Homo sapiens: one gene and its partners. The protein of the gene in region 1 interacts with the protein of each later gene in a pairwise test. Each region holds a gene or a part of one and is shown on either strand. Other genes may lie near its edges.

Region 1 (3,703 bases):
ACCATGTTGGCCAGGCTGTCTCGAAATCCTGACCTTGTGATCTGCCCACCTCAGCCTCCCAAAGTGCTGAGATTACAGGTGTGAGCCATCGAGCCCAGCAAATTCCCTTCTTTAAAAAAAAAATCCTAATTTCTTGTATTTTTACCTGGCCCTTAAAAATGCAGGCAAAATAAACAAATAAACAAACACCCAAGACTAATGTCAAATAAAAAACTAAAAAAAGACATATGCAACACAAAGATTTTTTTAAAGCCTCTATGAATCAATTTAACAATAACAAAAAAAGTACACACAACCCAAAAGAAAAATAAACAAGAAAATCAACAGTTCACAAATAATCCAGATGACCAATAAGCATAAAGAAAGCTACTCAGCCTTACTGATAATTAAGGAAACATAAATCGCTAAAATATGATGCCATTTTCATCTGTCAAATAGGGAAAAATTAAAAAGATTAATAGTACTAAAATGGACAAAGGTGAGCTGAGAACAGCCTCCCATTCACTATTAGTCAGGGTATAAATTAGTTTAGCATTTTTGTGAGGTAATCTGCACTATGCTTCAAAATCACATATGTACACATGCTTTGACCTAGCAATTTTACTTCTCAAAGTATATTTTAGCGCAAGATAATGTTTAAGGACTTCCACTGCAATGATCTTTAAAACAGTAAACTTTAAAACAGAACAACCCACACATCCATTATTAGAACCTGGTTAAATAAATTATGATATGCCCACCTATTAAAATACTCTGCAGTAGTGAAAAGGTACGAGGTACAGCTTAGAAAGATTCCTAAGATATATTAAGTGAACAAAAGTTGAAGAACAGCATGTATAATACATCCTATTTATTTATTTATTTATTTGAGTCAAAGTTTCGTTCTTGTTGCCCAGGTTGGAGTGCAGTGGTGCGATCTCAACTCACTGCAACCTCCCCTACTGGGTTCAAGTGATTCTCCTGCCTCAGCCTCCCAAGTAGCTGGGATTACAGGCGTCCACCACACCTTGCTATTTTTTTTTTTTTCGTATTTTTAGTAGAGATGAGGTTTCACCATGTTGGCCAGGCTGGTCTCAAACTCCTGATCTCAGGTGATCTGCCTGCCTCAGCCTCCCACAGTGCTGGGATTAGAGGCGTGAGCCACCACGCCCAGCTCATCCCATTTATTTTGAAGAAAAAAAGATATATGAATGTGGAGGCATATTTGTATGGTATATGCATGTAAGTTTTCTTAAAGGATCCAAAAGAAGCTGTTAACTGTGGTCACTTCTGGGAAACAAAAAGCAAGAAAGTGAGGAAGTACATTTTGTTACACTCTCTGAATTACAATTTTTAAAGAATAAAATATGTAACATATTATAATAATACTTAAGTTTATAAATAAAAACTTCGATCATCTCAAATTTTGAAATTTACTTTATTCTCAAACATACCAGATAAAAATGTCATTTCCCCCTACTTAGCAGCAACAACTAAACCTATATTCTTTACCACTGTTACATTCAAAGAACCATATAAATGTGTTTTCTACACCTAAATTGTCTAGCCACCAGGCGGCTATTTTCCTCTATTCTCATGGTACAAAAGCCTCCTCTGGCCTGCTTGCTACATGGCCATACCTCCCAGTCAACTGGTTTAAAGATGCTTTTGCAAGTTCTCATCTTCTCTTTCTGCCCCCAGCCAACCATTCTAGCTCTAGGCCTACTGAACATTCATTCCTAACGAAATTCACAAAAGACATAAATTAATGCTACCCAACTGCAACAGGTCCTCTGTCAGTTGCCTGACAGTTCCTTTATTTATCCCTGATACCTCCTCAGCACTTATTGCAAAATGTCATGTAAATGAGTAATATTTACTGAGCATTTACCACATGCCAGACACTAAGGACTCTCTTATTCAATAGATATTTAATTAGCCTCCATGATAGGCAGCCCTGATACTTGGAAGATAATAGTGAGCAAAAACTTGCCTGCTCTGCACTTACTGTTTAGTGTGGATGATAGACATTAATCAAAGAATCACAGAAATATAAAATTACAACAGTAATATGAAGAAATAAATCATGCTATGAGACTATAAACTAGTGTACATGACAATCTGAGGGAAGACAGAAAGCTTCCTCAAGAAAGCACTCGATGACAGAGATGAATTAAGCAGACAAAAACTGTAGTGCGGGCAGAGAGAGTTCTCACAACTCTACGACTGGGCACTAATATTAGCTTCACTTTACAGATGGCACAACAGAAACAGGTCACAGGGCTGGTAAGTGGTAAAGTTCGGCAGAATGGAACTCAAATCGAATGGAGGAGGAACATCCCTCACAAATCCCATCAGTGGATTTGTGTGGGATGCTCTCTGGACAAAATCTTTAATACAACATATAAGGTTTGTTCCTCCCTGAAAATCTATTCCTCTAACCCTTCCAGCCTTAACTCCCATCTTTACCCTATTCCCCAACATCACACTCAACTTCTGTTCCTGTCACTACTCCACGTGACTAGAATCTCCGATTTCCTTAGCAACATTCAGCAGGCCTGGAGCTACCGAACATGGGGCATTAGCAAGTGGCCACAGAGGAAAGAGGACTGACAAAAGCATCTTTAAAACAGCTAACTGGGAGATGTGACCATGAAGGAAGGGAATTGAGGTCCTGTCATAGTCCTTTCCCTCTACTTGGAATACCCGTGTTCCTCCGTTTTGCATTGCTATGCAGGAATACCTGAGGCTGGGTAATTTATAAAGAAAAGAGGTTAGATTTGGCTCCCAGTTCTGCAGGCTACACAAGAAGCATAGTGTCAGCATCTGCTTTTGGTGAGATAAAGGGGGAGCAGGCATGTGACAGGGCAGGAGAAGTGGCAAGAGAAAGAGGAGCTTCCATGTTCTTTTAAACAACCGGCTCTAGGAGTGAACTAATAGAGTGAGAACTCAACTCATTACCTCAAGGACAAACCAAGACATTCAATCTGCCTCCATGACCCAAATATCTCCCACTAGGCCTACCTCCAACACTGGAAGTGACATTTCAACAAGAGATTTGGAGGAGACACATACCCAAATCATATCAACCTCCTCTTCATAACAGTCTCCATTTTCTTGGCCTAGTGAAACTTATCAATCCTTTAAAACCCACCTCAAATGCTCCCTCCTCTATAAAGGTGTCCATACCTCCCAAACAAAAGTGGTCTCTTCTTCCTCTGCTCCCAAGGTTCTCTGAATATAACTGTAATACAGTTATCACACTGGTGTGCAACTATCTGCTTGACTTAACATTATCACATATCTATCAATAACACTCCTTAAGTTCTTGATAAATCCAAAGGTGTCAATCTTCATTTCACCTGATCCATCAGCTGCACCTGACAAAACTGAACATACTACTCTACTGTAAATTCTACAACACCAGACTCAAAATTGTCCTTGTCCCTCACTGGCTGCTCAGTCTGTCTCATTTGGTGGTTATTCCTCATTTTCCCAACTTGTTAAAATGCCTAAGGACTCAGGCCTTGTGCCCCTTCTCTTTTCTGTCTACATTTACTCCTTTAACGACTGTCTCCGGTCTCACAACTTTAAATACCATCTGTTCACTGACAATTCCCAAACGTCTGTTTCCAGCAATGACCACTCTGAAGTCCAGAATGAACATATTCAACTGCCTACTCAACATCTCCACTTAGATGACTAACAGACATCAAAAACTTAT
Region 2 (3,703 bases), on another chromosome or scaffold:
CACCCGGCTATTTTTTAAAATTTTTTTGTAGAGACGAGGTCTCATTGCGTTGCCCAGGCTAGTCTTCAACTCCTGGCCTAAAATGATCCTCCCACCTCAGCTTCCCAAAGTGCCAGGATTACAGATGTGAGCCACTGTGCCCAGCCCTAGTAAATGTTTTTTTTTTTTTTTTTGAGACAGAGTTTCACTCTGTTGCCCAGGCTGGATGGCTGGGATTACAGGCGTGTGCCACCATGCCCAACTAATCTAGTAAGTGGTTTTTAACAACAAGCTTTTGCATATTTTTGTTTAATTAAAAAGTATTCTCTGCTGGGCACAGTGGCTCACGCCTGTAATCCCAGCACTTTGGGAGGCTAAGGTGGGCGGATCCCTCGAGGTCAGGAGTTTGCAACTAGCCTAGCCAACATGTGAAACCCTGTCTCTACTAAAAATACAAAATGTTAGCTGGGCGTGGTGGCATGCACCTGTAATCACAGCTACTCAGGAGGCTGAGGCAGAAGAGTCGCTTGAACCTGGGAGGCAGAGGTTGCAGTGAGCTGAGATCACACCACTGCACTCCAGCCTGGGTGACAGAGCAAGACTTGGTCTCAAAAAAAAAAAAAAAAAAGGTACTCTCATTCTTTCCTTTTGTTAGTTGTGGGGAAGAATAGCCGACCTAGCAAAGAAGAAAAACTAGAAAACTGATTTATTAGTATTTTTTTCTTCATAGAAAAAGTTGTCTAAAGGTAAAATCTTTTTCCTCTCTTAATATTAGTGATAAATGATTTTGGGATTTCTGAAGTGGGAGTGAGTTGCAGCTTAATGGCAGAGAATCCAGGGAATGCAGCTTAGCCCACAGTTGCCCTTTGATGAGGAGCCTTCACTAATGTTCATCTTTCTGGGTGACAGCCTCTCTCTCACCTGAGCCTACAGTAACTCTGCAAGTAGGTAAGGCAAGAAGTATTGCCTGGAATGAGAACCCTGCTTTCCTGACTTCTAGTCAAGTGTCCATATCTTCTCTCTGGCCCTGATGTTTAAAGTTATTTCAGTTAAAAAACCAATAGCATGGGAAGTGTGGGCCTGTTAACCAACAGAACCTGGCTTTGTGAATGTCATCCCCAGGATGCGTAGAAACAGGCCAGACAGTGCACACAAGTGCTTTGGACTGGGCAGTACTCTGGCCAAACTATGGAGAGAGTTTGTCTGACTGGTGCTCTGAGAAGAGGGCTTCATAAACCCACCCCACTGAGGCCAGGGCTTTTTACCTGTAGTCCAGAGGATCTGTGGACCCCCAGAAGTTAGATAAAATCCTATGTAAATGTGCATTTGTTTTTCCCCATCCGGGGATTGGTTTTCATTAGATGTGACAGGAGATGGTAATTCCAAATAGTTAAAACCATCTTTCATTCCTTTGTTCTCAAAAGACAGACCAAAACAAGGCTGGCTCTGTACAAAATAAGCTGTCTCTATGGTATGTTCCCTCTGGCCCCCTTACTGCTGCCTCAAACGTCACAGTTCAGCTTCTCTGGCTTATTAGAGATATAACAGAGAGTAGTGAAGGCTACTGAGGTGATGTAGGGCCATCCAAAGAGCAATAGACCAGGAGTTTGGAGCCTTGAATTTTAATTCTGGTCCTGCCAATAGACTTGCCACAAGTCCTAGAATTCTGCAGTGTCCAAGATGGCCGGTGGTAATAGTCAATCTTTGTTGTATCTGTAATAAACCACAGAAGGGCCGGGCGCAGTCACTCATGCCTGTAATTCCAGCACTTTGGGAGGTCCAGGTGGGCAGATCACTTGAGCTCAGGAATTCAAGGCCAGCCTGAGCAACATGGTGAAAATCCCTCTCTACCAAAAATACAAAAAATTAGTTGGGTGTGGTGGTGTGCACCTGTAGTCCCAGCTACTTGGGAGGCTGAGGTGGGAGGATCATTTGAGCCCAGGAGGCGGAGGTTGCAGTGAGCTGTGATTGCACCACTACGCTCCAGCCTGGGCGACAGAGCGAGACCCTGTCTCGAAACAACCAACCAACCAACCAGAGAAGCTGAATTGTGAAGTTTGAGGCAGCAGTAAGGGAGCCAGAGGTGACATGCCATGGAGGCAGCTTATTTTGCACAGAGCTAGCCTTGCTTTGGTCTCTTTAAGAGAACAAAGGAATGAAAGATGGTTAGAATTTGTTGCCTTTCAGACTTTTCTACATCTCTGCTTAAGGTAAGGAGCCATAAGTTTGAGTTTGAGTAAACTTGTACATTTTCAGATATGAAATGTGTTCTCTTCATAGTCATCAGGTACTCACAGGTTGACTGCAGAGGAGAGGAACCAAGCTATACTTGACCTTAAAGCAGCAGGATGGTCGGAATTAAGTGAGAGAGATGCCATCTACAAAGAATTCTCCTTCCACAATTTTAATCAGGTAATTGTTATAAATTCTTGCTAGGGCTGTGGTCTATTTTAGTCACCTTAGGCCATAACACTTTCTGATTCTGCCAGTTGTCTGGTCCCATGTAGATCTAGGATTCAACTCTTCCCTTCTTTAAGAATTCAGTGATAGAGTGACATCCTTGTTGACAGTTGCTACCACCCACCTGGGTGGTGTTTAGCTCTGGGGGAAGAGGGTGGTTTGTGTTACTTGGAAAACAAATTCTGAAACCACTATTGCTTTGGTATGGTGTTGGTTAGGATATGTAGTTTCTTTTGAAATTTCAAATAACATTAAAAGAGAGTGTAAGCCTTTTATTATTGATTATTATTTTTTGAGACAGGGTCTTGCTCTGTTGCCCAGGCTGGAGTACAGTGGTATGATTGTGGCTTACTGCTGCCTCGACCTCCTGGGCTCAGGTGATCCTCCCACCTTAGCCTCCTGAGTAGCTGGGACTACAGGCATGTGCCATGCCCAGCTAATTTTTGCATTGTTTGGAGAGGCAGGGTCTGGCTATGTTGCCCAGACTGGTCTCAAATTCCTGGCCTCAAGCGATCCTCCTGCCTTGGCCTCCCAATGTGCTGGGAATAGAGATATGAGCCACTGTGCCCAGCCTGAGCTTTTTATACTTATCAGAAAGGGGCATGAATAAAACTGGTTGAGGAAGATGTACCTGCTTGACTTATTTTCCCTGACTTTTTCTGGGCCGTTGGTAATTTTTCTTTCTTCCTGCAGTTAAATTTCTATCTCTCAGTCATCTCCCAGGCTGCACCCTTTTCCCTGACTGGCTTATTTTTCTCCAGCCCAGTAGCCAGATCCTGAACCTTTTCTTAAAACCTGACCTCCCCCTTGGAAGTCAGCTTTAACAAGGTAACTGTTCCATTAGGGACCCACCCTGTTTAGAGAGTCATCTCCCATGACTTAACCTTCAGTTATTACACCACTGCATTTGTAAAAGGTAAATGCTTTTGACTATTTTGTTTGTTCAGTTAGTTTGGTAATCCTTTGGACAGATTTATTGTTTTTATTTATATTGGGTGTCGGCATCTAGAAGTCAGAGACCATGTTTGCTTAAATAACTCTCTATTGTACCCAACACAGTTCTGGGTACAAACAGGCATTTGATAAATGCAGACATTGATTACAGTGTTTGCTAGTTTCTAGAAGGGTGTGTGAGGACCAGATTTGCACCAAAGAAACCTTCGGCATGTTTTCCTAGTAAATGTCATTGGCTCCACTGAGCTGCATGCCCGATTCTGTTCTCTATCCATCTGGCTGCCAGCCTCTGCTGTGAGTCTCCAACTCC
Region 3 (3,910 bases), on another chromosome or scaffold:
CATTTAGAAGTATGGTGAATAGCATGAAAAATCTGCTCTCATTTCTGTATGGCGAAATACATATGCAATTATATTTATAAATACAGAAGAGTTTCTCTGAAAAGATGGTAATTTTTTAAATAGTTTCTCAAATGCATACATTACCTCTCAAAGTTTATTACAAACACCCTCTTCTCCCTATTAAAAATGTGTCTTTGTATCAATTGTGGTACGCTGAAATTAAAAACCCATTATTGTCATGTTGATTAATTTCTAGGCTATCCAGACCTAGACTTGTTTTTTCTTTCTCAGTAGAAGATATGGGTGGTGGTGTCATTTAGCTGTATAATATTGAGCAAGTCAATCATCCATATGGACTCAGATTCTTCATTTGAAAATGATAATCTTAGACTCAAGATGACTTCCAAAAAATATCTTGCTGGTCTAAGGTGCTATCATTATATGACTCGATTATGCATATTTGAAAATAAAGCAATAAAGTGGCAAAGAGAATCTGGGTGGATGTCAGAGGGTGAGTTCTGGTGATGGCAGAATTGCAGACAACTACAATTTTCCCAGTATATTTCATTATTTGACCACTTTATAAATTCCTTTTCATTTCTACTCCATTCATCTTTAAAATACCCAAGAAACAACAAAAAAGGCATATTCAACTGAAGAAATTTATTTACTTTTTTCTAGGTACATAGATGACATAATTATAGACAAGTTTTGATACATAGGAAAACCCTTCCGTCCACCTCTCTTTATGCTAAATGAATCATCACAATAATTTTTACAATTTTTAAAACAATACACAGCTTTCTTGGGCTGAAGCAATTGCAAGAACATATTGGTACTGGTATATTACAGCTACTTACAATGTTTTTAAGAACAGCAATGGAGAAAAATAAGTTATTTAAATATTGATTTCATATACAGAAAGTGCAATGTTGTTAGTTGTTATATAACTTGCTCGACAGTTTCTTTTCTCTATCAATTTTAAATCAAGATAACTTGGACTCAGACTATTATATTTTTTTCTGAAAATAATACAGTACACACATGGCAGCAGTGACTTGGCAAGTTGACCTTTTTTGCTGCAGTTATGAAAGCAAACTTTACTATGTCAGGAACTGATTTCCAATAGATTAGTAATTTCCAATTTCACCCATACCTGGGGGTTCAGGACAGAGAAAAGGGCCTCTGACTAAGGCAAGGCCATGAAACAATATCTTAGTTATCTGGGTACATAAATAGTACTAGCTGGAGCTGACTGCATTTCCTTCCAGACAGCTTTGAAGTGAAAATCATACACAATGTTATGTGTAGCTACCTGAGCCGAACTGCCTTTCCAGGTTTCTTTTGTGCTTTCCAAAGACAACAATTTTCACCATTACTCAAAATTCTGTACCAAATGCAACTGATTAAAACTGGATATTCCTGAAGCCTACCACCTGTTCACTAATGTCCACAGGCAGCCCCAATCCACCTCAGTCAAACGTCACACCCAAACATTCAGCTTTTCTCAGACCAAATTAAATGTTTACAGAAAAAAAAAAGACCAAACGCTAAAGATATTTTTAAAATATTTAAACAACACAATAAAGTAAAAACAACCTCAGACCCCTCAGACTAGACATTCCCACTGAAAATTCTTTGTGGTCCCTGAATTTGATTTTCTATGCAAAGGCATTGATTTCCAAAGAAGTGTGATAAAAATGTGGTTTGGCATTCTCAAAAACTCCAGAAAGTTCCCTCTTCTGCTGCGACTTTCACTGAAATGAAAATCCTTCATGGAGAACGAATTAAAACTTGGAAATTCACATGAGATTTCTCTCGCTCCTTTGTTATCTCATCTCTTACACAACTTTTGTGTGGTTTTTTGCTCAGCTTAAACAATGACAGGATCTGTCCAAATGTCAAGCCGAGGTATTTTGAGAGCAGGAAGAGAAGAAGCCTGTCTACAGCACCCACATCCACCACAGCACGTGAAATGCATTGAACGCTTTAGCTATACAAGAACCCTGCAGCTTCATTACATTGCAAATAGGCTAGGCCACAACCCGAGAGGACAAACAAACATGAGCTGTTTTTAAGAGTTCAACAGAAATTTGGCAGCTTTAGCTTTTTATTCTACATTTCCACAACTTCTTCACATGGCATCTTATAGAAGATGAAAATTAATTATTAAAGAAACATGCATTATTTTTTAAAAATGCATACTAATGCATGAAAAAAATACATCACCTGAGAATGTCTTTTTCCTCAGAAACATGGATCCAGACATAAGCAATATGCTAAAGATGGCTTTCTAATTAATTTATGAAATCACTTCCCCTCCAACCCAAGGGAAATTATTTGTTTTAATAAGTAGATGAAATATTATAAAATGTTCAATCAAGGGCTTGTGGTCAAGGTGTTTCTATTATAAATGATTGACCTTTATATTTTAGATGATTGCATTTGATGCTTAAAATAGTGTTCATGATAAGAATGTAAAGGAAAATCATTTTGTAAGCAATGGAAACCATAATAGTTTACTTGTTTAAATTTACTGTTTGCTAGAAAACCAGACACTAGACTAAAAGAGGACAGAGGCCAGGTGCGGTGGCTCACACCTGTAATCCCAGCACTTTGGGAGGCTGAGGCGGGTGGACCACCTGAGGTCAGGAGTTGAGTTTGAGACCAGCCTGGCCAACATGGTGAAACCCTGTCTCTACTAATAATACAAAAATTAGCTGGGCGTGGTGGTGGGTGCCTATAATCCCAGCTACTCGGGAGGCTAAGGCAGGAGAATCACTTGAACCTGGGAGACTGAGGTTGCAGTGAGCCAAGATCGTGCCATTGCACTCCAGCCTGGGTGACAAGAGCGAAACTCCATTTCAAAAAAAAAAAAGGATAGAATGTGCTGAAATCAGTTGTAAAACAATTTAAAGTAGCAAATACTTAACACATGGCTAATGAGATTTGTCTGGTTCCATAGTGAACCTTTGTTTAAATTAAAAGAATTATCTAAATAAAAAAAGAAGGATAATAATAGTATTAGTTGTAATACTGAAAAGTCTTTTAGAAAACATCTTATACATGACTTCCCTTATTAAGGACATCTTTCTGAAATATGCAGCCTCACAGTGACCTTTTGCAAACATGATCCGTTAACTGAGGACTGAATTTTGGGATGGACATGGTCAGGATTCCAAGTCAATACTGCAGCGCGACGATCCACACAGTAACGATACTAAACTGGTTAAAACCAAAAGCAGTCACTATGAATACAGACACACACGCGCACGCACGCACGCACACACATGATATTTGTGAATTTCAGATAGCTTTTTACTAGATTTGTAGTTAGCTTAAAAACCAAAAACCAACATGAAGTGTGTGGCTGATGAATACCTCTACAAAATAAGCCATGTTACAATGAGACGATTAGAAAAGCTCACTTTTGCTGGAAACATCCCAGAGAGGTTCGATGTCTGCCTAAGCTGAAGATGTGGAAGTATGGTTACAGGGTTGTGGACACTAGTTAGATAACTGCTTAAAAGCTTATATTAAGGCAAATAAAAGCTGATTGCTAGAAAGCAATTATGAAAATGTCTCTTGTTTATCTAAAGAAGAACAGGACTTTTTTTTTTTTTTTTTCCTGGTGCAGCCAGATGTTCTAACTTTTGAACAAATGAGCGTGGTCAGTAATGTACAATAACTCTTGAGTCTGTTACTTTGGCCTAGCTAAGCCCATCTGGCCCTCGGGCATCCTGCAAGATGACAGACAGAAGAGCAAGGGCACTATCAGAAATGGAACAGGCTGCCCCCTACTCCTCCCAGCCTCTACCAGTACACAGAGACAGACTGGAGATAGAGCATTCGCAGCCAGTTGGCATCTTGGTTCTTTTGTCTTCTGAAAATAAAAATAAGTGCTTGTCTT

The links. The genes of interacting proteins can lie anywhere in the genome.
Region 2: the proteins of C1D (region 1) and PCBD2 interact in a two-hybrid assay, tested with the Homo sapiens proteins (one large-scale study listed by BioGRID and IntAct).
Region 3: the proteins of C1D (region 1) and SASH1 interact in a two-hybrid assay, tested with the Homo sapiens proteins (one large-scale study listed by BioGRID).

What each region holds. Positions count from the first base shown.
Region 1 is NC_000002.12:68,056,302-68,060,004, forward strand, and holds part of C1D (nuclear nucleic acid-binding protein C1D), read right to left. Parts: intron 1-3,703. UniProt on the Homo sapiens protein: Plays a role in the recruitment of the RNA exosome complex to pre-rRNA to mediate the 3'-5' end processing of the 5.8S rRNA; this function may include MPHOSPH6.
Region 2 is NC_000005.10:134,908,076-134,911,778, forward strand, and holds part of PCBD2 (pterin-4-alpha-carbinolamine dehydratase 2), read left to right. Parts: intron 1-2,259; coding exon 2,260-2,391; intron 2,392-3,703.
Region 3 is NC_000006.12:148,548,783-148,552,692, reverse strand, and holds the end of SASH1 (SAM and SH3 domain-containing protein 1), read right to left. Parts: 3' UTR 649-3,910; downstream 1-648. UniProt on the Homo sapiens protein: Is a positive regulator of NF-kappa-B signaling downstream of TLR4 activation. It acts as a scaffold molecule to assemble a molecular complex that includes TRAF6, MAP3K7, CHUK and IKBKB, thereby facilitating NF-kappa-B signaling activation.